Regions from separate parts of the Homo sapiens genome. Here region 1 is linked to region 2. Evidence: fine-mapped expression QTL. A gene starts in region 2. The other region holds a variant in brackets. All regions are shown on one strand. Distances are from middle to middle.

What was found. PIP is the estimated chance that this variant, and not a neighbour inherited with it, causes the effect.
Region 1: its variant is fine-mapped to the expression of ACRBP in whole blood (INTERVAL, PIP 0.92).

The regions. Positions count from the first base shown.
Region 1 is chr12:6,611,026-6,625,752 of GRCh38, forward strand. It overlaps LPAR5 (lysophosphatidic acid receptor 5), which reads right to left. Exons shown (of 2, transcript NM_020400.6): 2 at 7,810-10,439. The coding sequence starts at 10,223. The coding sequence ends at 9,105. LOC105369631 (a long non-coding RNA gene) reads left to right here and starts at 3,061. Exons shown (of 4, transcript XR_007063192.1): 1 at 3,061-3,492; 2 at 3,802-3,887; 3 at 6,625-6,764. RefSeq lists a cis regulatory region at 1,756-3,498, a silencer at 2,739-2,808 and enhancers at 8,836-9,357, 9,358-9,878. The variant T/C (reference allele first, on the strand shown) is at 6,999.
Region 2 is chr12:6,640,567-6,655,293 of GRCh38, forward strand. It overlaps ACRBP (acrosin binding protein), which reads right to left and starts at 6,866. Exons shown (of 10, transcript NM_032489.3): 1 at 6,758-6,866; 2 at 6,228-6,446; 3 at 5,917-6,011; 4 at 4,654-4,771; 5 at 3,571-4,039; 6 at 2,973-3,105. The coding sequence starts at 6,800. It overlaps ING4 (inhibitor of growth family member 4), which reads right to left. Exons shown (of 8, transcript NM_016162.4): 3 at 12,664-12,830; 4 at 12,370-12,484; 5 at 12,096-12,201; 6 at 11,705-11,852; 7 at 10,758-10,819; 8 at 9,735-10,668. The coding sequence ends at 10,629. RefSeq lists enhancers at 6,287-6,800, 6,724-6,793.

The DNA of each region.
Region 1 (14,727 bases), 30 kb before region 2:
ATCTCTGCATTACCCTTCTCATCTCATTTTCCTAGAGGAAGGCCTGGCCAGATGGCTCTCCCCTTCTCTAGGATCCAAGGGACTGGAGAACTGGTACAAAGAAATGAGTTCAGGGAAGGCAAGAGCTTGCCTCAGGGAATTACAATCCCCCTGCTCCTGAGCAGAGCACCAGGGATGCAGACAAGTCTTCCGCTAGCTCCTGGCTGACTCTGTAGACCCACTAGCATTCCACATTTAACTCTCCTCATCTTAGGACTGGAGTTTTTGGCATCAAAGACATCAGGTCCTGTCAAAAGCTCCCTGTCACCTTTGAAGTAGGTGTTTTCTTTTTCCAACCTTCCCTTCAGCTCCCTGGCCCACCCTCTTGCTGCACTCATTGTGGCAAGCGGGCCATTCTCCCCCGTTCTGCAAGGCTTCCAGTTTCCCTCGTTAAATGCTCTCGACATCAAGACTGGGCCCCATTTACTTACCCAAGCCCTCTCCCATACTTACTCTGAGTACTAAGAATGAAACTTGTGTTCCACAATGGGGGGTGAGGAGGCAGCTCTTTTCAGATACCATGATGTGGGGACACCTCCTTTCAGGGAAGTTTCTCCTTCCTACAGAGGGCTGCCAGATGCCTATTGTGCGCTCTTCTACCCTCATTTCTCCAGGGGATCCAGCCTGTCTCTGGGCCTCAAATTCCCTTCTGCAATATCTCCATCTGCCCATACCCATACTCTCATTTCCACAGTGATCTGTCCATATAAACCAGTAAGAGAGCGTTTGGGTAGTCACAGCCTCCTGCCTGTGACTAAAAATATCCACATTTTATTTATCCATATATCCTTTGTCCACTACTCACCCTGTGTCCCTATTCCTGTAGGTTCTACCCACTTCTTCCTTTGCTGCTCTTGCTCCCCACCTCTCCCTAACACCACAACAAGGAGAAAGTTAAAATCCCTTCCTCTCTTCTTGAGTTCCAGAAAGGGCTCGGAGGTGTGTGCTGGTGTGTTGCTTTGTAGTCCTTATGCTTCTACGCTTCCCCTCCCTCCTCTAGCCCCGTGCTACCCTCCCAGATAAATTATAAATAAACCACTAGCATGACTGGCCCAGGGAGACTAAGGGTGGCATAATCTCCTAATTAATGCACCCAGGAGGGCAGCCTCTCTAGCCAGTTACCTTAGAGTTCTGTTTTCATCCCATGGTACAGAAGAACCTAGAACAACACTCAGAGTGGGTTGTTCATGGAGTTTTTAGCATTTGCTCTATAATTCCTCTCCTTACACCTCTGTTTTGTGTGAACCTGAAAAACTCTGTTCATAAGAGGTCCAAGGGGCCACAGTGTTCTCCTGCTCTGTCTGAAAAGGGGATTTTGGGAGACAACGAGGGAAGCAAAGCCACAGTGACAGTGCACTCCAAAGGCTAGACAGGATGCAGATCACGTGGGGCTTGGGGGTGACATGCCAGGTGTTTGTATCTCAGGAGGCAACCTACTATCTGTTTTTTGGGTGTGACTGCAAGGTAGCAAAGCGCTCCGTGCACAACCCCCCAACCTAAGCAAAGTGCTCCGTGCACAACCCCCCAACCTAAGCAAAGTGCTCCGTGCACAATCCCCCAACCTGAGCTATGGTCCCCAGGCTCAAACCCAGGAAGACAAAGATGGAAGGGAGACGGGTACTATCGCCATCCATGACTACTACTCCCTTTGGTATGCCACCCGGCCAGAACATCTCAGTTCTCATTTGCAGTGCAGCTCTGCAGGCCCCGGACTCACAGGGCAACCCTGTAGCGCACAAGCTGTTTAAAGGACCCAGGTGTCCAGGGTTCAGATTTGGCTCGCTGGAGCCTGCCCCAGGGGCCCCTTCAAACAGCTGTCACCAAAGAAACCTCTCCAGCCAGTTACTCCTGCCAGGCCTCAGGTCCGACTCCAGGGCTCACCCTACCCTCCCCAGCTCCTTCCCTCCCTCTTCCTTCCCTCCCCCTCCCCACCCCTCCCTAGAGTTTCACCTCTCCTGGACAGCCCCACCCAGCTGTGCAGGGCACATCCCATAATAATCCTCCTCGCTAGCCTTACCCCCCCAAAAAAAGAGAGGCGGCCATCCCATAATAGCCACCCACAAGAGACATTCCGCGGTGACCGCCCCCTCCCTGCAGAGCTGCTGGGAGCAGCCATCCCATAATAGCTGGCCGCCTGTTTTACTGGTTACGGCTGTGGAGGGAGCTGGAGAGGAAATGGAGGGGAGGGGGGAGGGGAGAAAGATCCAGGGCCCCCACTTTGTGGGATGCAGGGAGAAGGGGAAGGACGGTGGTATAAGGGGCTAGGGTGCAGAGGAGGCCGTCGTGCAGGTGGAAGGTGTGATCCACTGGCCACCACCACCCTGCTTTAGGGCTTTCTCCCCATTCGCCAGGGGCTACTTTTCTCCTCAGCACCCCGGAGGTGGCTGCTAGTTAGGGGAGAAGCCCGGGATGGGTTGAGGTGCCCAAAGTCTGTGTGTGTAGGGAGATGGGTTTCAGGTGTTCCTCTTGGGGAGTCTGAGAGAGGACGGTGACCTTAGAAAGGATGGTAGGCGAGTAAGGGTTGAGGAGGTGGGGGGGCTGGAGAAGAGCTCCTCAGGCCCTCCCCATTCTGCACCACCATCCCATAATAATCCCCCCAGCCCCACTCCCCCTCCCACACACGACATCCCATAATATCTTCTGGAGAAGCAGTCCCCGCAGTAGGTACAAAGAGCTATCCCATAATAAGCTCCCCCACCCCCACTCACCACCCCCCCCAACTTGGCCCCCCCTCAGTCACATGCAGCCGGTGCCATCCCCCGCTGCTCCCCCCTCTGGCCACCGAAGGCCTTGCCAGCCCATAATACTCTTGCCTCTGGTCGCAGGAGGCCTCCAGCCCATAATACTCCCTTCCACCACCACCCCCCCTTCCCGCCCCGCACCCCTTCCTCCCGCCTCCAGTTGGAGCCGGGCCTCACCAACCCATAATATTCCCCAGTCTCCTAAGGCTGTTCCAGCCCATAATACTCTCCCTGTCTCCTAAGGCCTCTCCATCCCATAATACTGCCAGACGCCTGACCTGTGGGCCAAACCCCAGCCAGTTCCACACATCGAGGCTGTGTCAGCGCCGCAGGCCTCCCTCCCTGTCCCTCCTCCCTCCCTGGTCGGCGCTTTCCCTCCCAGGCTTTCTCCCGCCCTCCTGCCCTGGGCCCCTCTCCCAGCCCCACCCCGTGCCTGCCTGGGCCCTCGCTTCCCCTCCAGCCTCCTCCCTTGCCCTTTCTCCATTGCTTGGTTCTCCAGCCAGCTTCCCCCTGTCTTGCACTTTCCTACCTCCTCCTTGGTCTGTGGGATGGACATGGGCCTAGTGGGGAGAGAGTGCCCCCAGAGGGCAACAGGCCAGTCGCTGCCCCTAAAGACTGCCTGCTTGACCTAGCACCGTGGAAACCTGCCCAGCCTGCCTTGCTCACCACCTCCCGTGGTCCTACGTCTGATTGCTGGCAGAGCTCTGTCTGGGTGAGGAAAGAGCCCTTCAGGTCTTCGGGAAACACTCCCCTTGGGCATCACTGGCAGAGTTGATCAATGGCCTCGCCTCCCCATGCTCTTGTTGGAAAGAAGGAGCTCCCACTTATGGGGCATCTAGAGTACCTTTCAAAGGTGGGCTCCTTGACCCTCACAATAACCCAATAAGTGGATATTATGAGCCCCATTTCACAGAGAAATGGGAGAAAACAGAGGCTCAGAGAGGTCAAGAAATTTGTTGAAGCCACATTGCCAAGAAGTGAGAGAGTTGAAATTAATGCCCAGATTTGTTTGATTCCAAAGTTCTGGAGCCTTTGGGATTCCCCAAACCCTGAGTGAGAAAGTTCACCTTCCAGGACTTTCCGTGCTCCTCTGGCAAGGACAACATGGTGAGAATTACCCCAACTTGTCCAGGGCCTTCCTGTGTGAGATTAACCTTCCGTTCCCCGTTTCTTCCATGGGACTCCAGGTGGCAGCCTCGAGGGAATTCCATCTTCAGGATGGTTGAGGACCAAGAAGGAAGAATCTCTGCCCTCCTTTGATATCCCTTACCTCTGCCCTGGCTCTCCTAAATTTGTTTTAAGATTAATGATTGTGGCCGGGTGTGGTAGCTCACACCTGTAATCCCAGCACTCTGGGAGGCAGAGTCAGGCACATCACATGAGGCCAGGAGTTCAAAACCAGCATGGCCAACATGGTAAAACCCCGTCTCTACTAAAAATACGAAAATTAGCTGGGCGTGGTGACGCACGCCTGTAATTCCAGCTACTAAGGAGGCTGAGGCAGGAGAATCACTTGAATCTGGGAGGGGGAGGTTGCAGTGAGCCGAGATGGCACCACTGCACTCCAGCATGGATGACAGAGCAAGACCTTGTCTCAAAAAAAAAAAAAAAAAAAAAAATTAAGGCCAGGAGCGGTGGCTCATGCCTGTAATCCCAGCATTTTGGGAGGCCGAGGTGGGCGGATCATGAGGTCAGGAGACGGAGACCATCCTGGCTAACCTGGTGAAACCCTGTCTGTACTAAAAATAAAAACAATCAGCTGGGTGTGGTGGCACGTGCCTGTAGTCCCAGCTACTCGGGAGGCTGAGGCAGGAGAATCACTTGAACTTGGGAGGCAGAAGTTGCAGTGAGCCGAGATCGTGCCACTGCACTCCAGCCTGGGTGACAGAGCAAGACTCGATCTCAAAAAAAAAAAAATAATAATAATGATTGTTACTCTTCCCAGCTCCTCTCACCATGTGGAGGGACCATCCTACCGAGGAGACAGACTTTGAGGAAGGGTGAACCAAGGGATGGTCCCTGCTCAGTGTACACAATCAGGAGTGCTGCCTTGGAGATGTAGGGTACATCACAGGCTGGGGGAGGGGAGTCATGGCCAACTGCCTGAAGTCTTAAGGCATTCTGCCTGTGTGTGGGCCCTCGATGTGGTGTATTTTAGGGCCCAACACAATTAGAACCTTGAGTGAGCCAGCTCTCAACCTCCCCAACCCCTACAGCCACATGGTGTTCAATAAACAGGGGGCTGAGACAAACGGAGAGGGAAGGGGCGGGTGTGCTGTAGGGCAAGTGGATTAGGGGCATGGAGGAAGAACTGGGAAGAGGAGGACCAAGATGATGCAGCAGATTCAAGGCAAGCCAGGCAGTTGAAAGAGGTGGCTACATGAGGAGGGGAGGAGAAGGAAGGAAACCCGGGGTGGTATGTAACAGGAAAGAAAGTCCCAGGAAGGAGAGGTATACTGCAAAAAGCAGGAGTTTGGGAGCCAAATTACAGACTGAGCCACTTTCTAGTTGTGTGACCTTAAGACCTCAGATTCTCCAGGGTGTTTCATCTGTAAAAGGGATGAACATCATCTCCAACTCAGATTATATTATTTAATATAATAAAGAAGATAATGCATCTTAAGCGCTAACTTGAAATCTTGGCATACAGAAGAGTATTTTTTAAACCTGCTAAAAGGCCGGGTGCAGTGGCTCACGCCTGTAATCCCAGCACTTTGGGAGGCCGAGGTGGGTGGATCACCTGAGATCAGGAGTTCAAGACCAGCCTGGTCAACATGGTGAAACCCTGTCTCTACTAAAAATACAAAAATTAGCCGGGCATGGTGGCGGGCGCCTGTAATCCCAGCTACTCAGGAGGCTGAGGCAGGAGAATAGCTGGAACCTGGGAGGCGGAGGTTGCAGTGAGCAGAGACCACCAACTGCACTCCAGTCTGGGCAACAAGAGTGAAACTCCATTTCAAAAACAACAACAACAACAAAAACTGCTAATGCTCATTCCCGTCTGTCTAAGATTTTCCCCTTCTCTATCTTTGGATTTTCATAGACCTTAAATAGAGCAGCTTCAGGGCATGGGGTGAGGGCTCTGGACTTCATATTGCTCTCTTAGTCTTGGGGAACCCTATGAAAATGGCCTAATCTATTCTTGCCTCTCTGTTCTCTTGATGGAAAGCCTTTGGATATCTGAATGGGGGGAAATAGTCCACCAGGGCTTTGACACCAGAGATTTCACATCAGAGACAATGTATTGCCATCTAGCTCTTCCACAGGCCATGGCCACACTTGTCCTGGGCTATTGTAATGGCCCCCTGACCAGTCTTTCGTTTCTTTAGACTTTCCCCCCCCATCATTTTCCTACAGTTTATTCCACACAGTTTGTCAGTGTGAGCAAAACCTCACTCAGGAGCCTCCGTGGGCTTCCCATTGCCCACTAAACCAACTGCCAGCACCTTACCCTGCATTCTTGTGTTTTCTGCCTGGCATTATAGTTTTTGTTTACTTGTTCTATGGTTCTCACTAGATTGTAAACTACTTCACAGCAAGATCTGACTGTTCATTCATTCAACAAATATTTACTGAGCACTTTCTCTGTGCCAGGCACTGTTTTAGATGCTGGGGATCATCAGAGAATCAAGCAAAAATCCATGCCCCCACAGAACTTACATTCTACCTAGGATATAGGACGGGGTGGCGGAGATGATAAACTATAAAAATTAGAATAAATAAATTATATAGTATGTTGAAAAGTGATACATGCCGTGAGTTGTAATTACTTTGGAACTCACGTACCTGCCTATAAAAGTACTCAAGTAATCTTTAAAAATTGTGTTTGATTCTGTTTGAATAGGGCAAAGTGCTAAGATTTTGGACTACGAGGTTTGGCGCTGCCAGTGCTCTCAGGACAGGAAGGGCACAGGTCTTGAACCCTGAAGATGAAGAGAGATGGAGCAGGTGCTAATCACCAGGCCTCTTCCAGAGCGGCTGGAGGTAAGTGCCGGGCTCCAGGCTCCAATCTCCACCCAGATGGAGAAAGGCCCAGATTTCATGGCTATCCCTGAGGAATCTGGGTCAGTTCTCTGATTTGGCCACCAGGGGTCATTTTACCCCTGTAAATCACCATCTGGAGCACTTGGCATAAAGGCACACACAAAAGGCTACCCTGGACTAAAACAGACACAAACGGAGAACCCTGACACACACACACACACACACACACACACC[T/C]CTCTCTCTCTCTCTCTCACACACACACACACACACATTCTCTCACACACACAGAGTGCGTGCACACACAGATAAAAATACAGTATTGAGACATAGGGACAGAAATGCTATAGGACGCACACAGGGCAACAGCTCCTTCAGTAATGCCAGGGTCTGAAGATGTCCACAAGTGCCAACTCTGCAGCCCCTCCGAGCCCCCAACTTGGGTGAAGAGGGAAGGAATAGCCGGGCACAATGGCTCATGCCTGTAATCCCAGCACTTTGGGACGCAGGCAGATTCACCTGAGGTCAGGAGTTCGAGACCAGTCTGGCCAACATAGTGAAACCCTATCACTACTAAAAATACAAAAAATTAGCCGGGTGTGGTGGTGTGCACCTGTAATCCCAGCTACTTGGGAGGCTGAGGCAGGAGAATCCTATGAACCCGGGAGGCAGAGGTTGCAGTGTGCTGAGATCGCGCCATTGCACTCCAGCCCAGGTGACAGTGCGAGACCCTGTCTCAACAAAAAAAAAAAAAGAGGGAAGGACTAGTAGGTGGCCCATTTCCCTTGCTTCCAGCGTGCTGAGAATGGACAGCCTATTCCTGTCCTCCCATCTCACTCTTAACTTCCCCATAAACTTTTCTCTCCTGGCTGTGGCACAGTTCCCTTTTCCCTCCCCCAGAGAAGCCCCATCCCCTCTGCCTGAGTGTATGACTAGTTCCACCCCCCAGTCTCCATCCCTGCCCCAGGGCTGCTGCTCTGATATGCCCAGGGTAGTGTTCCATTTTATGTACTACTCCTAGGGCCGCAGGAAAACCCTGAGCCATGAAGACTATCAGTAGTGATTAATTTATTTAGCACTGCCCTCTCCCCACAGTAATAAAAAGCACTGTACATAATGCCCTGGGAAGAAGTTAGACATGAACTCCAATACTTCAGGACAAGTATGGTTCTCAAAGTGTGATCCAGGGACCAACCCTCTGAGGAAGTCCACGAGGTCAAGCTATTTTCATAATACTGCTACACAGATGTTATTTGTCCCTTTCACTCTCATTCTCTCACAAGTATACTGTAGAGTTTTCCAGAGGCTTCATGAAGTGTGTGTGGTGACATTATTGCTCCCATGGCTAATGTAATGTGTGCATGTGTATTTATTTTAAAAATGTATTCGCTTTAATTTCTAGTATGGTAAGTATCAAAAGAACAAAATATAAGCAAAGCTCTTTGAGATCCTCAATTTCTAAGAGTGGGGTCTGAGACCAAAAAGTTTGAGAACCAGTGCTTTAGTAGAAAGAATTTTATCCTTACTCTGGACAAAGGAGAGAGAGGGAGAGAGAGAGAAGAGGAGAAGAGAGAGGAGAGGAGAGGAGAGAGAAGAGAGAAACGAGAGAGAGAGAAAAAGAAAGAATATTAAGGACCTAAAATGGAGGAGGCCTGGAAAAGGGGATGTGATGGAAGAAAGGATAACCTAAAAAGGGTTTGGACTTGGATGTTGTTGAGGGGGAAACTCTAAGTTAGTTTTGCCTTGCCCCAACTATCCCATGCTGGATGCCAAGTCTAAATTGTCACAAGTCACTATGCGAGAAAGAATGTAGTTCTGTCCATAGGAACTCTTGTATTAGGCCTCAGTGGTGAGCAGGGGAAGCCTAGGCCGAAATGAAAGGGGGTGGCATCCATGAGCCTAGACAGAAGTCAGCAGATGAACAGGCATCTCAGTAGCTTTGTCCACCAAACCTGGTGCTCTTCAGCTCTCAGGCCCCTGTGGCGGTTTAGATCCAGAATGCCCATTTTCTGTTCCATCTAACCAGCTTTTAGCAGTTTAATGCCCTGCCCACCCAAAGGCATTTCGTCCTCTTCTGCCCTCTGCACGGGTGGGCTCTCTGCATCACTTCCCACCGCTGGAGAAGGGGTGCTCTGCGTGCTCACAGTTTAAAGAAGCCATTTCCAGCAGCACTGCCTTCCCTGGGCCCTGGCTTCCACACTTTGTACTCTTCTGCGTTGCTAAGCTGGAATTGCCACCCAAAGGTCCAAGTGCCCAGCCCACCTTCTTGTGTGTACACCCTGTAAGCCTCCCAGAACGAGAGGCGTTGGGAGTCGGGCACGGACAGCGCAATGGCATGTGTGTTCAGAGGGCGGAATCCTGGGGACACTGTGTGAAGGAAGACAGAGAGTGGGAGTCGGAGGGTCGGAGCAGCCCCTGACTGGCGGCATCCGGCCTGGTGGCGTCGGTGGTGACGGCGGACCTTTCGGATTGCGCGAGCGCCGCCCGCGTCCCGTTGGTGGCCGAGGTCCTGGCCCGGTGCGGAGTGCCCAGGCCGCGCAGGGTGTTGCGGAAGCCCTCGGCGCTAAAGTAGTACACCAGCGGGTCCAGCACGCAGTTGGCGCCGGCCAGCAGCACCATCACCATCAGCACCCCGCGCACGCGATCGCGGGCAGGCACGCTGGCCGCCACCAGCTTGCTCCGCAGCAGCCCGTAGACCGCCAGCGTGCTGTTGTAGGGCACGAAGCACAGCAGGAAGATGACGAGGTTAGCCAGCAGGAGGCGCACGGTCTTCCGCCGCCGCTGGCTCTGCGTGGCGTCGGGGCGCGCCAGCGTCCAGAAGACTCGGCCCGACGAGTAGACCACCGCCGCCAGGGGCAGCAGGAAGCCCAGCGCCTCGGCCAGCAGCACGAGGGGCAGCAGCCTGCCTTTCCACAGCTCGTCGCTGAAGCTCTCGAAGCATAGGCGCACCTCGAGGTCCCGGTAGCGGCAACGCGAGGGCCTGTGCACGCGGGCGGCGGGCACGGCAAACACCAGGATGAGCGCCCACACGCCCAGGCAGAGCAGCCGCGCCACGCGGGGCCGCCGCAGGTGGCGCAGTCGCAGCGGGTGCACGATGGCGGCGTAGCGGTCCACGTTGATGAGCATCAGGAAGATGCAGCTGCCGTACATGTTCATCTGGAAGATGGCGCCCGTCGTCTGGCACAGGAGGTCGGGGAAGGGCCAGTGGTGCAGTGCGTAGTAGGAGAGACGAACGGGCAGCGAGAGGGTGAAGAGCAGGTCGCTGGCCGCCAGGTTACACATGTACACGCTCACCACCGAGTGCACGCGCAGCGCGCGCAGGAAGACCCAGAGGGCTAGCGCGTTGAGGGGGAGCCCGGCAGCCAGCACCAAGCTGTAGACCACCAAGTGCAGGCGGTGGGTAGGTCGGTAGTCAGGACACGGGAGAACAGAACTGTTGGTTGAGGAGCTGTTGGCTAACATCGTGCCAAAGTGGGATTGGGAGCTAGGCTGGGGATGCCATGGAGCACACCAGAATCATGGCATGGCATTCACCTCCGGGGCTGGGGCCTAGAGGCTGTACAGACATGGTCCCAAAACAAGCAGAGGGAGGTCATGGGAATGTGGGCTATGGCTGCAGGGACAGATGGCTGCCAAGGGTTGGGTGCGTTTGGTCACAGCTTCATCAGCAGCAGAGACCTGGAATAGGAAGGCAAGCCGGAAGTTATACAGAGACAGGGCTGCACACACAAATGTTTAGCTCCACTGGCAGGCCTTCTGAATCTTTTCTCAGCCTCAAGTCTGCCATTGGGCTAGAATAGGTTCCTACGGCAGGACTATATAGTATAGTGTTAAACACCCAGGTTTGAAGGCAGGGACTCGGATGCCTAGGTTTAAATCTTGGTTTTGCTAACTTGCCTAGTTGTGTGACTTCAAAAAAATTAATCTTGGCTGGGTGCAATGGCTTACACCTGTAATCCTGGCACTTTGGGAGGCCAAGGCAGACCAATTGCTTGAACCTAGGAGTTGGGGACCAGCCTGGGCAACACGGCGAAACCCCATCTCTACAAAAAAATACAGGGCCAGGTGCAGTGGCTCACACCTGTAATCCCAGCATTTTGGGAGGCCGAGGCGGGTGGATTACCTGAGGTCAGGAGTTCGAGACCAACCTGTCCAATATGGTGAAACCCCATCTCTACTAAAAATACAAAAATTAGCTGGGCGTGGTGGTGCACACCTGTAATCCCAGCTACTCGGGAGGCTGAGACAGGAGAATCGCTTGAAACCAGGAGGCAGAGGTTGCAGTGAGCTGAGACTGTGCCATTGCACTCCAGCCTGGACAACAAAAGTGAAACTCTGTCTCAAAAAATAAAAATAGCCAGGCGCGGTGGCTCACGCCTGTAATCCCAGCACTTTGGGAGGCCGAGGCAGGTGGATCACCTGAGGTCAGGAGTTCGAGACCAGCTTGGCCAACATGGTGAAACCCCATCTCTACTAAAAAAAATACCAAAAATTAGCCTGGCATAGGGGCGGGCGCCTGTAATCCCAGCTACTCAGGGGGCTGAGACAGGAGAATTGCTTGAACCTGGGGGGTGGAGTTTGCAGTGAGCCAAGATCGCGCCATTGCACTCCAGCCTGGGCAACAAGAGTGAAACTCCATCTCAAAATAAATAAATAAAATAAAATAAAAAATAAAAATAAGGCTGGGCGTGGTGGCTCACATCTGTAATCCGAGCACTTTGGGAGGCTGAGGTGGGCGGATCACCTGAGGTCAGGAGGTTGAGACCATCCTGGCCAACATGGCAAAATCCTGTCTCTACTAAAAAAAAAAAAAAATTAGCCGGGCGTGGTGGCAGGCGCCTGTAATCCCAGCTACTCAGGAGGCTGAGGCAGGGAGAATTGCTTGAGCAGAGGTTGCAGTGAGCCGAGATCACACCATTGCACTCCGGCCTGGGTGACAGAGCAAGACTCTGTCTCAAAAAAAAATAAAATAAAAAATATTAAAAAATTAAAAAATTAGCCAGGCATTGTGGCACATGCCCGTAGTCCCAGCTACTTGTGAGGCTGAGGTGAGAGAATCACTTGACTCCAGGGAGGTGGAGGCTGCAGTGCAGTGAGCCTCAAGCCCACCACTGCACTCCTGCCTGGGTGACAGAGTGAGCCCATCTCAAAAAAGAAAGAAAGAGGGCCAGGGCCGGCGTAGTGGCCCACACCTGTAATCCAGCACTTTGGGAGACTGAGGCGGGCAGATCACCTGAGGTCAGGAGTTCGAGATCAGCCTGGCCAACCTGGCAAAACCCTGTCTCTACTAAAAATACAAAAATTAGCCAGATGTGGTGGCATGCACCTGTAGTCCCAGCTACTCAGGAGGCTCACACAGGAGAATCACTTGAACCCAGGAGGCGGAGGTTGCAGTGAGCTGACATCGTACCACTGCCCTCCAGCCTGGGTAACAAAACGAGACTCCATCTCAAAAAAAAAAAAAGGCGGCTGCATGGTACCTCATGCCTGTGATCTCAGCACTTTGGGAGGCTGATGTGGGTGGATTACTTGAGGCCAGGAGTTGAAGACCAACCTGGCCAACATGACAAAATCTTGCCTCTACTAAAAATACAAAGATTAGCCGGGTATGGTGGCGTGCACTTGTAATCCCAGCTCCTCAGTAGGCTAAGGCATGAGAATTGATTGAATCCAGGAGGCAGAGGTTGCAATGAGTCGAGATCACGCCACTGCACTCCAGCCTGGGTGACAGAGCGAGACTCTGTCTCAAAAAATGAGAGAGAGAGAGAGAGAATTCATGAGGTTTGGAGATTAAGATGACGTGTGTAAAACGCTTAGGTTGCTGTTACTATCTCAAGATCTCTTCCTTCCTTCTTTCCTTGCTTACTGAGCTCATAGAAAGTTCCAGGCATGTTCACAGCAGGGAACAAAGCAAAAAGTCTTTGCCCCCACCTCCTTTACATTCCATTGGAGGGAGACAGATAATAAGCACAAATCAATAGGTGGTCTTATGGAGCACCTCCTTGGACCAGGTGCTAGGCTAGCTCCTCATTATCCAAAGAATAAAGGTCAAACTCTTTGAGTACATGGGAGGCTGCAGCAGGAGAGTCCTTGAACCCGGGAGGCGGAGGTTGCAGTGAGCCGAGATCACGCCACTGCACTCCAGCCTGGGTGACAGAGTGAGACTCCATGTCAGACAAGCAAACAAGCAAACAAAACTCCCAAATACAGAACAACATCCCAGCCTTACGCATCACATGCATCACTGCGCCTGTGAGGGCTGGATTTGTGGTCAAAGCAAACTGGGTTCAGCTTAATGGTTTGACTTCTCAGTTTCTTCATCTGTAAAATGGGAATAATAATATAATAATGCCCTCATAGGCTGATTGCATGCTAGTCTTGACCAGAGCCACATGTGAATAAATTTGACAGCACAGTCTTGCTAGGCAGGGGAAGGCCCTGTGGGTTGAGTTTTGCCAAGTGCTCCCCTAGCAGGTCTAATCCATCGCACTCCGGCCTGGGAGACAGAGTGAGAGTCCGTCTCAAAAACAACAACAACAACAACAAAGACCAAGACAGTGTTGCTTAACCGTCACCACTCTCTGTTTCCAGAAATAGAACTTTTTCATCAACCAAGCAACAACTCTGCAGTCATTAAGCAGTACTACCCACCGCACCCCATTCAGCTTCTGGTTCTAGTCTACTTTCTGTCTCAATGAATTTGCCTATTCTAGATACCTCATATGAGTGGAATCATACAATATTTGTCCTTTTGTGTCTGGTTTATTTCACTTAGCATAATGTTTCCAAGATCTATTCATGTTGTAGTATGTAAAGGAATTTCTTTTTTTTTCTTTTCCGTTTTTTTCTTTGAGACCTAGTTTCGCTCTTGTTGCGCAGGCTGGAGTGCAATGGCACGATCTCGGCTCACCGCAACCTCTGCTTCCAGGGTTCAAGCGATTCTCCTGCCTCAGCCTCCCAAGTAGCTGGGATTACAGGCATGCGCCACCACGCCTGGCTAATTTTGTATTTTTAGTAGAGACGAGGTTTCTCCCTGTTGGTCAGGCTGGTCTCGATCTCCTGACCTCAGGTGATCCACCCGGCTCGGCCTCCCAAAGTGCTGGGATTACAGATGTGAGCCACCGCACCTGGCCTGGAATTTCATTTTTATAGCTGAATAATGTATTTCATTGTATAATGTTTTGCTCATCCATTCATCTGTCAGTGAATACTTGGATTCTTTCCACCTTTTGGCTATTGTGAATAATGCCACTGTGAACATGGGTGTCTAGATGTCATCTTAGGGAGAGAAGTTGTCTGAGACCCTGAGCAATTATCCCAAGACACCGAGCTTATTACTTTCAAAAGGAACTGTTTAGGCCGGGCGTGGTGGTTCACGCTGGTAATCCCAGCACTTTGGGAGGCCGAGGCAGGCGGATCACGAGGTCAGGAGATTGAGACCATCCTGGCTAACACGGTGAAATCTCGTCTCTTTTAAAAATGCAAAAAATTAGCCGGGCGTGGTGGCAGGCGCCTGTAGTCCCAGCTACTCAGGAGGCTGAGGCAGGAGAATGGCATGAACCCGGGAGGCGGAGCTTGCAGTGAGCCGAGATTGAGCCACTGCACGCCAGCCTGGGCAACAGAGACTCCGTCTCAAAAAAAAAAAAAAAAGAGGGCCGGGCGCGGTGGCTCATGCCTGTAATCCCAGCACTTTAGGAGGCCAAGGCGGGCGGATCACAAGGTGAGGAGATCGAGACCATCCTGGCTAACATGGTGAAACCTCGTCTCTACTGAAAATACAAAAAAATTTAGCTGAGCGTGGTGGTGGGCGCCTGTAGTCCCAGTTACTCAGGAGGCTGAGACAGGAGACTGGCGGGAACCCGGGAGGCAGAATTTGCACTGAGCCGAGTTCACGCCACTGCATTCCAGCCTGGGCGACAGTGAGACTCCGTCTCAAAAAAAAAAAAAGGAACTGTTTAAATTGTTG
Region 2 (14,727 bases):
CTGCCTTCTCCCATGCCTCAGCCCTCCAGGGTGGGCCCTGCAGAATGTCTTTGCATTTAGCCTCTTCCAAAAGCTTCTCTGGGTTTTCTACTTGGCCTCCTCCCCAAGGGTTCCTCAAGGACCTTGCCTCAGCTATTTCTTCACCCTCTTCCTGGATGATTTATCTACTCCTAGGTAATCATCTATCTGCGAGTGACACCCAAATCTTTATCACCAGCTCTGATCTCTCTCTTGGGCTCCAAATCCTCATTGCCAAGTGCCTGACAGATGTCTGTGATTGGGTGATCTTACAGATACCCCAACTTAGCCTATCTGAAAAGAACTCATAACCCTCCCCTGCCACCTCTGCTAATGATAATGCTAATATTTACAAAGAGGTGACCCAGTGCCAGCACTATGGCTACACATGCTCTCATTTCATTTAGTTTTCACGACAACCCTATAACAGCAGAGATACTAATATTACTCTCATTTACTGACAAGGAAACTGACTCTCAGTGAGGTTGAGTAAGTTGCTCAAAGCCACTTATCTAACAGATGGGGAAGCTGGGACATGGGTCCAGGTCCTTCCAACTCTAAAACCTATGCTCTATCCAAGTACCTGGGTTGGAAACCTCCAAGTTCTTGGAAGCTATTCTTCAGAGTGGAGTTACCAATCTCCCAGCTGGGTTCTGCCCTCAGCTTCCTCAGCACTAGCAGGAGATCGTACTAAGCAGTATCTTTAGTCAATCCCACGGTCCTCCTTCCTCCCCCATGGGCACAGCCTGTCACAGTGCATGCAATCTCCTATGGCACCTTGCCTGCTCCTCCCACATAACGGAGGCATCATGTCCCTGGCCAGAAATCTTTATTGGATTCCCCTTTCCTATCAAATTCAGTGCAAATGCTCATGTTGCCATTCAAGAGTTTTTGCGTCATGACCCTGTTGATCTCTTTGACTCTGTCTCCTGCTGCTCTGCTCCAGGTAAAAGGGACTCCCTCCTTACTGTCCTCTTATCTAAGCCATCAAATCCAGTGAGCTCCCTCCATAAAACCCTGAACTTCTTGCATTTTGTTTAAGAACCTCACCGACCACACTCCCTTTGTAATATTACTGTATCCATATTAACTCCCTCATGGGTTCTTGGCCCCTTAAGAGCAGAAACAGTATGCTCATTGTTAGCATACTAATTTCACTCATGAAATTTCTACCTCTTCTTTGGGCCAGGCACGGTGGCTCATGCCTGTAATTCCAGCTGAGTGGAAGTGGCTGAGATGGATTCCATGAGCCCAGGAGTTTGAGATCAGCCTGGGCAACATGGCGAGACCCTGTCTCTACAAAAAAATACAAAAGAAATTTCTACTCTTCTTTGCATCATAGCCTTTGCACATACTATTCTCTATCAGGAATCTTCTACCAAGCCCCTTCTTTTGCCTGGATTCACTTCTTTTATCTTCAGGTCTCAGTTTAAACATCAGTTCTTCTTGGAAGCACCCTCTGATCCTCCCAAACATGGAGAGTTGTCCCCAACCCACCCCATCTGCTCTCTGTACTTTGTGCCTATCCCTGCTACAGCACTGATCCCATCACACCATCCTGCATATTTCCTTGTCTCTCTCCTGCCCTAGATTCCAAGAGGACAGAGGACTGGCTCTATTGCACATACTGCTAACATCTTAAATATCTAGTAGAGTTTGTCCCCAATCAGTATTTTTTTTCATGACAAGATACATCTAAGTTTTATTCTAAGAGTTTTACAGGCACTTTTAGGTCTTACATTTAGGTCTTTGATCCATTGTGAGTTAATTTTTGTATATGGTGTGAAACCCTTAAGTCTTTAAATCATCTTGAAATGTTTTTTGTGTATCTACTCCTAGGTGATCATCTATCTGCAGGGGACACCCAAATCTTTGGGTGTAAGATAGAAATTCAATTTCATTTTTTCCTCATGGTTAACCCATCATTCCAGTACCATAAATGGGAGTTCCTCTTTTCCCACAAATCAGTCACAGAAAATCTGTTTCTGGGCTCTGGGTAGTCTATTTGTCTGTCACCATCCCAATTTCACATTATCCTAGTTACTTGAGCTTTATAGAAAGTCTGGATTTATATAGGACAAGTATGCTCTACCTCATTCATTTTTATGTTATTCTTGTCCTCCCAATCAGTATTTGTTGAACAAACAGATGAATGGATGGTATCTGAGCTCTCGAAAAATGTTTGCTAAATTGTATTATTTGTGAAAATCTAAGGTATATTTTCCTGGGAGTAGACTTGCTGGTTGTTGAGGACACATTGAGACTGGAATCTCTTTACAGATTCCCTGGAATGGGTTCTATGAACTCTCTGGAAAGAAGAAGAGCTGCATCTAAGGCAAAGCTAGGAAGATGGTGAGGTGGATCAAGAATCAAGAGTTGACTCAAGGCTGGGCATGGTGGCTCATGCCTGTAATCCCAGCATTTTGGGAGGCCGAGGCAGGAGGATTGGTTGAGCCCAGGAGTTCTAGACAAACATGGGCAACAAAGGGAGACCCCATCTCTACAAAAAATAAAAAAAAATTTAGCCAGGCATGGTGACACATGCCTATAGTCCCAGCTACTCGGGAGGCTGAGATGAGAGGAGGATCACTTGAGCCCAGGTGGTCAAGGCTGCAGTAAGCCATGATCGCACCACTCCCCTCCAGCCTGAGTAATAGAGTAAGACCCTGTCTCAAAAAAAAAAGGAGTGAAATCTGGAAGCCTGGCAACTCAGGGAGGTGAAGAGGTGAAGAATGAATTCTGGACTGGATTGCATTTCAGACTGGGTCTTGAGCCTTCCTCCTTTAAAGTGGACTGGTAATGCCCTTCCTAAGAAAAGAGTCCCACTTGGAGAGAATCTCTCCAGCTATGTCTCATGCTTCTCCTGCCCATCCTCCACTCCCATAGCCTAGCACAGTGCCTGGCCAAGAGGATGCCCAGTGGCATGTATCCATTAGACAGTATGGCTGGCATACCGACTTCCCGAAACCAAGGATCTCCTCCTCCATGTACTTCCAGGCCTTGGCTGTGGGGGTTATGATGCAGGTATTCTCCACGATCGAATAGCACAGCACCAGCAAGGCCTCTGTGTGGGGCAGCTGCAGGAGGCTGCAAGAAGACAGCACTGAGGGTGGGGCTGGGCCAGGTGGCCCGGGCAGGAAACTACATCCAGTCTCTTCCCCTTCCCTTAGTGTCTGCTTTGGTCACACACATTCAGCATGCTTAGCATGGGGCCTTAGAGGCCTCTGGACAAATCGCCTCATTTTTCAAATGAGGAACTGAGGACCCGAAAGGAGAAATTACTTTCTCAGGATTGCAATGCTAAACAGGGCAGAGACAAGACCAGAACCCAAGTCTGGTAGCTCCAGGTACAGGGCTTACATAGAGAATAAGCATTTGAGCAGTGCTTAAGCCAACAATGGGCACAGAATTGGTGAGGCAGTTGCTAGCTGTGCCTGAAGTCCAGACAGGTCTGAGTGGATCTGGAGGCTGAAGCTAGGAAAATGGGCTTCTCACTCCCAAGAAAGGCAGAAGGGAGGGCAGGGTGGATGACAGAGTCAAAACTTCCTATACCTGCCAGGGTTTTGGTTTCTCCAGTAGGAGTTCTCATCATATATTTCATTCATTTCATCTATTTCCTGGGCTGATCGAATGAGCTCCTGGATGTTCTCCATTATCATAGGAGTAGACTCTACTTCTCGTACCCGGGGAGCAAAAGAGGAAGGGTTAGAAGATAGAGATTCAGAGTGAAACTTGGGCTCTGAGTCTGTCTGCAGCTGAGACACAGCCTCCCGTCCCTCCTTAGTCCCCTGTCCTTCTTCCTGCTTTCCCTCCTCTTCCTGTTCCTCTTCTTGCTCTTCCTGTTTCTGCCCCTCTTCCTGCTTGTGTTCTTGTGTCGGCTCCTGCCTGTGCTCCACTCCTTGCTCCTGCTTGTGCTCTGGCGCTTGCTCCTGGCCTCCCAGGGACAAGGAGGATTGTAGGAGCTCTTCCACGTTGTTGCTGAGCCTCTCAGGCCAGGGCTGGAAGGTCTGGCGTTCTGTCACTACAGCAGGGTTTAGAGAGAAGGGAGAGAGACAGTCAGGCTTCTAGCCCCTGAGTGTCTTTGTTCACAGAGGGACACACACATAAACAAAGCAGACCAAGTCACACTTATACACACAGAAAAACACAGAAAAGAACATAAGTATTAAACTAAAAGAACATTACCACGGCAACTGTAAGGCTGGTGGTATGCATCACCTTCCCACCTCCCTGGCAAGCACTCCTCCTTCCCTAACTTCCACCTCAAATACCACCATTTGTCCCTCTCCCTTAGGAAACACCAAGTATGCTGAGTAGCTAGCAGTCAATCCTTTCTAAAGTGAAGACATTAGCTTATAAAGGGCCTAGAGGTCCTTTGTAATGCAACAATGTCTCTGGAATTGGGAAAAATGGATTCAGGGCAAAATTGTAAGTAATGGCAGAAGAGATTCTGGTCCAGGAGAGCCCTAACTTGTATTCATAAAAAGCTGACACTCCTTTGTGTAAACAGCTGTCTGCTGGCGCCCCCTTCCCGCCCAACATGCTTCCCATTTCCCTGCCATGGATGCCTTACGTTGTGGGCTCTGGGAGTTGTGGGAGTAGCTGGTGGTCTCCCGGCTGCTGAGAGGGTCTCACCTGTGAAGTGGGGTGAGATGGGGGAGGTCATCGTGGTGGGTGAGACTTCAGCTGAAGCTTCTATCTCCTTGAGAGTGTTAGGTGAGAGAATAGAGACTGGCTGGGAACACAGGACTCTCTGCAGGAAGAGAAGGAAAATGGGAAAGCCTTTCCTAAAGGGCAGACTTCTGCTCCAGCTGGTTCTTCAACCCCTTTTCCAGCATGTCTTATCTCTCAGTTTCTAGGCAGGGATAAAGGGACATGGTCCCTGCTGGAACCCTCTAGACCTGAGAAAGGGTCCCTTCAGAAGATGAATCTCTGTTTGTCTGGGCCACATCCCTGCCGTCACTTTTGCATTTGACTCAAAATCACTGACCTGTTCGAAGAAACGTAAGGGCTTATCTCTTTGCCTCTTCCCATCCCTCTTCCCTACTTCTTTTTGTTTGGGTTTTGGGTTTGTTTTTTTTGTTTTTTTTTTTTGAGACGGAGTCTCACTCTGTCACCCAGGCTGGAGTGCAGTGGCGCGATCTCGGCTCACTGCAAGCCCCACCTCCCGGGTTCACGCCATTCTCCTGCCTCAGTCTCTCGAGTAGCTGGGACTACAGGCGCCTGCCACCACGCCCAGCTAATTTTTTGTATTTTTAGTAGAGACAGAGTTTCACCGTGTTAGCCAGGATGGTCTCGATCTCCTGACCTCATGATCTGCCTGCCTCGGCCTCCCAAAGTGCTGGGATTACAGGCGTGAGCCACCGCACTCGTCCCTGTTGTTGTTTTTTTTTGAGACACAGTCTTGCTCTGCCACTCAGGATAGGGTGCAGTGGCATGATCTCGGCTTACTGCAACCTTTGCCTCCCGGGTTCAAGCAATTCTCCTGCCTCAGCCTCCCGAGTAGCTGGGATTACAGGCGCCCATCACCAAGCCCGGCTATTTTTTTTTTTTTTTTTTGTATTTTTAGTAGAAACGGGGTTTCACCATGTTGGCCAGGCTGGTCTCGAACTCCTGACTTCAGGTGATCTGCCCATCTCGGGCTCCCAAAGTGCTGAGATTACAGGCATGAGCCACCATGCCCAGTCTCTTCTCTACTTTTCTTGCAGTAACAGAATTGTTCAATCTGAATATCCAAGGTGAGACTGTATTCATATATAATCTGGGTAAATGACTGGCAAAATGGCAGGGAAGGAGGAGCTAAGGATGACTCTCCTGGAACCCTTCCTCAACTCCCCACTGCTGCCGCCTCTCCCTTGGCCCTGGGGCACCAAATCCAACCTTTGTCCTGGGCCTCACCTTGGCATAGTAGACGTGGTTGGAGCAACGGTAGTGAGTGAACTGGCAGAAAGACTCAAACCAGGAGGCATAAGGGAGGTTGGAGCAGACAGCACCTGAGAAAGGGCAGGGGTGGAGAAGATGAACCCGTGGGGAGCTTGGGGTGGGGCTGTGGGCAATGGACTCCACGCCATGGGGAGGGTGGAGAGTACGAGCTCATGGTGTGGTGCCAGCCATGCCCTTCCCCGCCTCACATGAGCACAGGGGTTTTTGCCCTGAGGTTTGGGTGAACACTCTGGGTGCCTCGGTTTCCCCCCTAGTCTGGCCCTCACCATCGGGCACTAAGCCGTGGTTTTCATATTGGTCCAGCTGGACGAGTGTGGGATTCCGGCAGCCGTGGGTTGCACGGAGACGGCAGGTAGTCTCTGCCTTCCAGGTTGGAGTCAGCAGTGCGAAGAAGCGTTCGTATTCGGTAGGAGAGAGAGGGCTGCCTGGAGTGGAGGCCTGAGTCGAATCCTGGGCTGCGGCAGGTGCCAGAGGCAGGAGCAGCACTGCGGAGCGGGCGAACGGATGATGGAAGGACCGAACCCCAAAACCCGCTCCGAGACCAGGACAGACAGACCCAGACTGGCAAATTAGGAACGGGGTGAGGGTTATCCCTGCTGACCAGGGCGGGGGGAGTCTAGAGACAGAGGCAAAGGTCCGGCCGCGGGCGGGGGGAGATGGGAGTATCCCAGGACCTAGGGAGCCGACCCAGCGCGACCACCATGAGGAAGCGATCCAGAAACCGTAAAAGCAGAGCTCTCGGGAGGGAGAGGACTAGCCCGGGGAGAGTCTGTTGGAGCAGGTGTAAACCTCTCACCCTTCAGGAGTGAGGGAAGGAAGCCAGCGGCTGGCTTCCTCATGGCCGGAGAAGATCCGCCCGCGTCCCGTGGACACAAGCCGCCTCTAACGGGCCAAGCCGCAGAGAGAGCCGCAGGCGCGGGGCGGGGCGCACGCGGGCACCGCCCACGCGTCACAAAGAGCGGGCCGGGGCGGGGCCTCGACAGCCGGGCTCTCAGGGCCCTAAAGTGGCCAGAGCCCATCCAGATGGTAGGAATGGCAAACAGCTACCTTCACTTAGCGTCTTTTTCTTTTTTTTTTGAGACGGAGTCCTACTCTGTCGCCCAGGCTGGAGTGCAGTGGTGCGATCTCGGCTCACTACAACCTCGGCGTCCCAGGTTCAAGTGATTCTCCTGCCTCAGCCTCCCGAGTAGCTGGGACTATAGGTGCACGCCACCACGCCCAGCTAATTTTTGTATTTTTAGTAGAGATGGTATTTCACCATGCTGGCCAGATGGTCTCGATCTCTTGACCTTGTGATCCGCCCACCTCGGCCTCCCAAAGTGCTGGGATTACAGGCGTGAGCCACCATGCCCGGCCTAATTTTTGTATTTTTAGTAGAGACTGGGTTTCACCATGTTGGCCAGGCTGGTCTTGAACTCCTGACTTCAAATGATCTGCCCACCTCGGCCTCCCAAAGTGCTGGGATTACAGGTGTGAGCCACCGTAGCCAGCCACTTAGCATCTTTACATGCACTACCTTACGTAATTGCCATAGGAATCCCATAAGGTAGATACACTATCATTCGTTTTACAGATGAGAAATCGGGGCTTAGGGAAGCAACTCGCCCAACAAACAGGTCGTGAGGTCTAGAGCTAAGCGCAGGCAGAGATAGAATGTGCAAAACCAAGTCAAGGCCTATCTGGGTAGGAACTAGACAGGGCGCCTCCATGAGCAAAATGGGTCCAAGGGGAAAACAAGAGGGTGGCTCAGTGGTCTACGAAAGTGGTTTCCAAGGGAGAATCGAGTAAGACAGTCCACTGAGGTATGGGAGGAGAACTTTTGCTTTTGTATCTGTTTTGTGTTTAAAATGAGAAATTCCAGCCTGGGCAACAGGGCGAAACCTCGTCTCTACAAAAAGTACAAAAAATTAGCCAAGCGTGGTGGCACGTGCCTGTAGTCCCAGTTTCTTGGGGGGCTGAGATGGGAGGATCGCTTGAGCCCATGAGGCCAAGGCTGCAGTGAGGTGCAATCGGGCCACTGCTCTCCAGCCTGGGTGACAAAGTGAGACCCTGTCCCCACCCAAAAGCAAAAGTAAAAAAGAAAAATAAAACAAGAAATTGTCTTGGGCCAGACTTGGTGGCTCACGCCTGTAATCCCAGCATTTGGGAAGTCAAGGCGGGTGGATTCCTTGAGCCCAGGAGTTCCAGACCAGCCTGGGCAACATGGCGAAACCCTGTCTCTACAAAAAATACAAAAATTGTCAGGTGTGGTGGTGTGCGCCTGTTGTCCCACTTACTACTTGGGGAGGCTGAGGTAGGAGGATCACCTGAGTCTTCAGAGGTCAAGGCTGCAGTGAGCTGAGATCTCACCACTGTGCTCCAGCCTGGGTGACAAAGTGAGACCCTGTCTCAAAAATAAAATAAAATAAAATAAATTAATAAAATAGAGACCAGGCACTGTGGCTCATTCCTGGAATTCCAGCACTTTGGGAGGCCAAGGAGGGTGGATCTCTTGAGGCCAGGAGTTTGAGACCAGCCTGGCCAAAATGGTGAAACTTGGCCGGTGCGATGGCTCATGCCTGTAATCCTAGCACTTTGGGAGACCAAGGCAGGCAGATCACGAGGTCAGGAGATCAAGACCATCCTAGCTAACACGGTGAAACCCTGTCTCTACTAAAAATACAAAAAATTAGCCAGGCGTGGTGGCATGTGCCTGTAGTCCCAGCTACTCGGGAGGCTGAGGCAGGAGAATTGCTTGAACTCGGGAGATGGAGGTTGCAGTGAGCCGAAATCACGCCACTGCACTCCAGCCTGCATGACAGAGTGAGACTCCATCTCAAAAAAAAAAAAAGGGTGAAACCCAGTCTCTACTAAAAATACAAAAATTATGGCTGGTCTCAGCACAGTGCAATCTCTGCCTCCTGGGTTCAAGTGATTCTCCTGCCTCAACCTCCCAAGTAGCTAGGATTATAGGCACATGCCACCACATCTGGCTAATTTTTGTATTTTTAGTAGAGATGGGGTTTTAACATGTTGGCCAGACTGGCCTCGAACTCCGGACCTCAGGTGATCCACCCACCTCAACCTCCCAGAGTGCTGGGATTACAGGTGTGAGCCACCGCACCCAGCCTATTTATTTTTTTGAGACGGAGTCTCACTCTATCGCCCAGGCTGGAGTGCAGTGGTACAATCTCAGCTCACTGCAACCTCTGCCTCCCAGGTTCAAGCGATTCTCCTGCCTCACCCTCTCGAGTAGCTGGGATTACAGGCACCCATGACCACGCCCAGCTAATTTTTGTATTTTTGGCCGAGACCGGGTTTCGCCATGTTGGCCAGGCTAGTCTTGAACTCCTGACCTCAGGTGATCCACCTCCCTTGGCCTCCCAAAGTGTTGGGATTACAGGCGTGAGCTACCGGGCCTGGCCTACTTTAAAAAAAATTTTAAAAAATGAAAAAAAGAAATCAGCTTGGGTGCTGTGGCTCACGCCTGTAATCCCAGCACTTTGGGAGGCCAAGGCAGGCAGATCATGAGGTCAAGAGATGGAGACCATCCTGGCCAACACGGTGAAACCCTGTCTCTACTAAAAATACAAAATTAGCTGGGCGTGGTAGCATGTGCCTGTAGTCCCAGCTACTTGTAAGACTGAGGCAGGAGAATCACTTGAACCCGGAGGCGGAGACTGCAGTGAGCCAAGATCACGCCACTGCACTCCAGCCTGGCAACAGAGTGAGACTTCGCCTCAAAGGAAAAAAAAAAAGAAGTCAAGCTAATGTATAGTATAGCAGTACGTATGTATAGCACAAATACATCATTTATTGGAAATTAAGTGAAAGATGTTTTATGGAGAAAAGATGCATGATTTACAAAGTTTTGGAGACCCCCTGGTCTGAGGCCTACCCTCCAGCACCTCTGTCTTTCCCAAGTTGAGAACTTACAAGTTCTCGGACAGAGGCACCACTCTGGTTTCATGTCGTGTCCTAATTCTGGCATGCCATCCTCTCACATTGCATCCAACCCAGAGGACGCAAAATGAATGCTCAGCATGTTTACTAAAACAGTGTCTCTACAATAAACACAGCAGGCCAACATGTATAGCTTTTATTTACCTACCCAAGTTCCTTTTACATGTGAGTTATCTGCATTCCACCTTGCCCCCTCTCCCAGGATGAATCCTCTTGGCACAGAGGAAGGGGTGCCCCTTCAACTAGGGCCAGAGCCTAGATGACCTGGTGGATCCCCCACCATGAAAAAAGCAGGAAGGGAATGGAGAAGAAAAGTGTTGATCACACCTAGCCCTCACCACAGGAGGGGGAATGAAGAGGTCTGGGGGACTGCCCCCATGCTATGCCCCAGTCCTTAAATACAAAGCAAGGAGAATGAAAAGGACCCTCCCTCTGAAATACAGCACCGACCTCAGCATGGAGGCAAAAGGACAGTGGGCAAGACCACGTCCCTCCGAAGGGAGAGGGCTGAAGGAGAGCACATACCGTTAGTGGCTGCGGCACCCCTCCCTACCAGGGTCTGATGCAGCCTCAGCACCGGGAGTGGGGAGAGGGGAGGAGAAGGGATGACAGCACTGTGCCATCCACTCCTCCCTGAACCCCTGGCCCCAGCACAGGCATTCCTCTGCCCACTAGCCCAAGTCAGGGGATGTGGAAGAAACTGTGTTGGAATCCAAGGCCCTTATCTATTTCTTCTTCCGTTCTTGGGAGCAGCGTGGGCAAAACCTGAAACAGAGAAGGGGAGAGAAAAGTGAGTGAAAGGGAGAATGCCCTTGACCACTCAACTTAGGGACCCTCCAACTCCTGCCACTTACCATTTCCCCCGAGGCTTGGTTGTCAGCCCCACACAGGCAAAATGGAACCACTCAATGGAACACTGGAAGAGGAAGAAAGAAGTAGTCAGGGGCCAGGAAGGGCCAGAGGAAGGAGAGAAAGCCCCTCCAGATTCCTTAGGAACATCCTGTCCTTTACTCCATCCTTTTGGAGAATTCTTGGAAGTCCCAAGGCCAACCAGTTCCCACCATCTTCCTTCTATTCTTTTTTTCTTTTTGAGGCAGAGTCTCACTCTGTTGCCCAGGCTGGAATGCAATGACATGATCTCAGCTCACTGCAACCCCCGCCTCCCGAGTTCAAGCTATTCTCCTGCCTCAGCCTCCCAAGCAGCTGAGATTACAGGCACAGGCTATCATGCCTGGCTAATTTTTGTATTTTTAGTGGAGACGGGGTTTCACCGTGTTGGCCAGGCCAGTCTCGAACTCCTGATCTCAAGTGATCTGCTCACCTTGGCCTCCCAAAGTGCTGGGATTACAGGCGTGAGCCACAGCGCCAGGCTTTCAGGCTTTTTTTTTTTTTTTTTTTTTGAGACAGAGTCTTGCTCTTGTCGCCCAGGTTAGAGTGTGGTGGCGTGATCTCAGCTCACTGCAACCTCTGCCTCCTAGGTTCAAGCAATTCTCCTGCCTCTCGCCTCAGCCTCCCGAGTAGCTGGGATGACAGTCGTGTGCCACTATGCTCAGCTAATTTTTGTATTTTTAGTAGAGAAGGGGTTACACTATGTTGGCCAGGCTGGTCTCAAACTCCTGACCTCACGTGATCTGCCCGCCTCAGCCTCCCAAAGTGCTGGGATTTCAGGCAAGAGCTACTACGTCCAGCCCATCTTTCTTCTATTCTGAAGTCCCAGTACTCAACTGTGGGATTTTCCCTCTTGTACCCACTCCCTTCATGCCCCTCACAACCCCCCATCCTAAGGCAAAATGTTTCTCACATCAGGGTTGTCACAGCCAATCATCTCTCCATAGGAGACCTGGTGACAAAGGCAATAGGTGGGTTCGTTGGGATCCACAGGCATATCCAACACATCAGAGGGGTGGACACTGCCAAAGGTCACTGAGGGCATCCCATACTCAGGACTTCTGCATGCCAAGAGGAAGAGAAAGTGTCATCTACAGGAAGGGAAGCTAAAGCCTGAGGCTTTCAGAGGTGGCAGGAGATCCTGGTAGGGCAAATGATTTGTGGCTTCTCCAGCAGATACCAAAATGATAAGAAGAGTTCTTGGCGCAGACATATAGAAAGCGGCAGGGGGCGGTGCAGGCTGGGAGTGGGGCACCGGGAGAGAAGAGGATGTCATCCGGCAAAGGGCTCCCTGAATCACTCACGTGCGCACGAGCTTTAACTTCTTCTGGGCAGTCTTGGGGGCTTCTTCATCCGAGTTTTTCCCTTTGGAACGAGCACGAGCAGCTTTCTTCTCCTTTTGAGTCCGGCCTTCTAGGGAAGAGGGAGAAAGCCAGAAGGCAGGGAGACAGAAAGATGGGTTAAGTCCTCTTCTCTCCCCCTTTCCAACCTGGTGCCAAACTTCCCACCAGATGAAGAGCTGACTTCTTCTCCCTTTCAGTCCTCGCCCCACCTCTCACAGCCCCGCCCCCTCCTCACTCTTTTTGCCTTTGCTGGAAGAGCTGTCATAGTCACTTGACTCAATCTGTTTCTCCTTGAGATCAGCCTCAAAACGGGCCAGGTCTGTGTCCAGCCGCCGAATGTGTTTGTCCACCTGGGTGGAAAGGAAGGAGAAAGGAGAGGTACAAAACTATCTCCAATTAAAGAAAATAGGTTAAGGCAGAGTTTATGGATCTCACAGACCCCAAACAGATCCCAACACAGTTGAAGGAGGGGTCTAAGACCCTGAGGATTAGATGGGAAGTAGGTGGGGAGCCATGAACAGGGCCATACCATCTCATAGGTCTGCATGGCAAGCTGCACCTTGTCGTCACCAAATTCCTTGCACTTGCCATAGGCTTCCTGGATCTGTTTGAGAAGGGCCAATTTTTCCTCGGAGCTCAGGCTGCGGGCACTACTCATATACTCAGTGGCCAACTTGTCAATTTCAGCCTTCAGGTCTACAACAGAGACAGAGGCCTGGTCACAATGGCCCCTGAGTGGCTAGGTGAAACACATTTCTTCCTTTTGTTCTTTGGACCTTTTCCATTGATTAGCATAACCTTCCAACTAAAAAGTACTGAATGTTCAGAGGTACTGTGCCATGCACTCAAGTAATGGAACATACTGACAATATTTGCTTTAAAGGTCCTTTCAAGGTGCTGAAAACATTGCTATCATAGTTGGAATTTAAATTACTGAAACACAGCAAGGGATCCTTTGCACACCACATTAATATGAAGTGTATTTTTGTCCATGTTTGAAGATGCTTCTTTGAAGGGCTTGCTGCTTCTTGAATTTTGTCTCAAAAGCCATTGTTTCCTTCTCAAAAACATCCCACAGCAGTTGTCTGCCGCAAATCAGGCTGAGTCATCTGCTGTTGCTGGTTTCCAAGTCTGTACATCAATATCATACATTTCAAAATTATTAGTATTTTTTCTTTTTGACACAGGGTCTCACTTTGTCGCCCAGGCTGGAGTGCAGTGGCACAATCATGGCTCACTGCAGCCTCAACTTCCTGAGCTCTGGTGATCCTCCCATCTCAGGCACCACCACGCCTGGCTAATTTTTTCTATTTTTTTGTAGAGACAGGCTTTTTCCACGTTACCCAGGCTGGTCTCGAACTCCTGGGTCAAGCAATCTGCCTGCTTCAGCCTCCCAAAGTGCTGGGATTATTGGGGGTGAGCTACCATGCCTGGCCTAATCTATTTATTTTTAGAGGCAGGCGCAGGTTCTCTCTTATGTTTGTTGCCTAGGCTGACCTCCAACTCCTGTCCTCAAGTGATTCTATCTTTTCGCCTCCTGAGTAGTTGAGTATATCACACAATTTAAAATTAGACCTTACTCCAACATCCATGTAACAATTCTGCTTATCTTACTGCTCACTCTATTTTTCTTTTTTTTTTTTTTTGAGACAGGGTCTCACTCTATTGCCCAGGTTGGATGGAGTGCAGTGGCATGATCATGGATCACACTGCAGCCTCAACCTCTGAGCTCAAATGATCTCCCATTTCAGCCTCTGGAGTAGCTGGGACCACAGGCACATGCCACTACACCCTGATAATTTTTTTAAAAAAATTATTTCTAGAGATGAGGTCTCACTATATTGCCCAGGCTGGTCTTGAACTCCTGGTCAAATGATCCACCTGCCTCAGCCTCCCAAAGTGTTGGGATTCCAGGTGTGAGCCACTGCAGCCAGGCTGCCCATCCTATTTGGCTCATCATTGCAACTTCTTTCATTTTCCATTACTTCTTTTTTTCCTGTTTGTCCATCCTAGATATTGCTCCAAACACGTTTTTTTGTTTTGAGACGGAGTCACGCTCTGTTGCCCAGGCTGGTGTGCAGTGGCACGATCTTGGCTCACCTCAACCTCTGCCTCGTGGGTTCAAGGGATTCTCGTGCCTCAGTCTCCCAAGTAGCTGGGACTACAGGTGTGCGCCACCACATCTGGCTAATTTTTGCATTTTTAGTAGAGATGTGGTTTCACCATGTTGGCCAGGCTGGTCTCGAAGTTCTGATCTCAAGTGATCTGCCCGCCTCGGCCTCCCAAAGTACTGGGATTACAGACATGAGCCACGGCACCCGGTCTCCCAGATGTTTTATTTTATTTTATTTATTTTTTTTTGAGACCAAGTCTCACTGTGTTGCCCAGGCTGGAGTGCAGTAGTGTGATTTCAGCTCACTGCAACCTCCACCTCCCAGGTTCAAGCGATTCTCCTGCATCAGCCTCCTGAGTAGCTGGGATTACTGGCATGCGCCACCACACCCGACTAATTTTTGTATTTTTAGCAGAGACAGGGTTTCACCATATGGGCCAGGCTGATCTCAAACTCCTTATCTCAGGAGACTCACCCGCC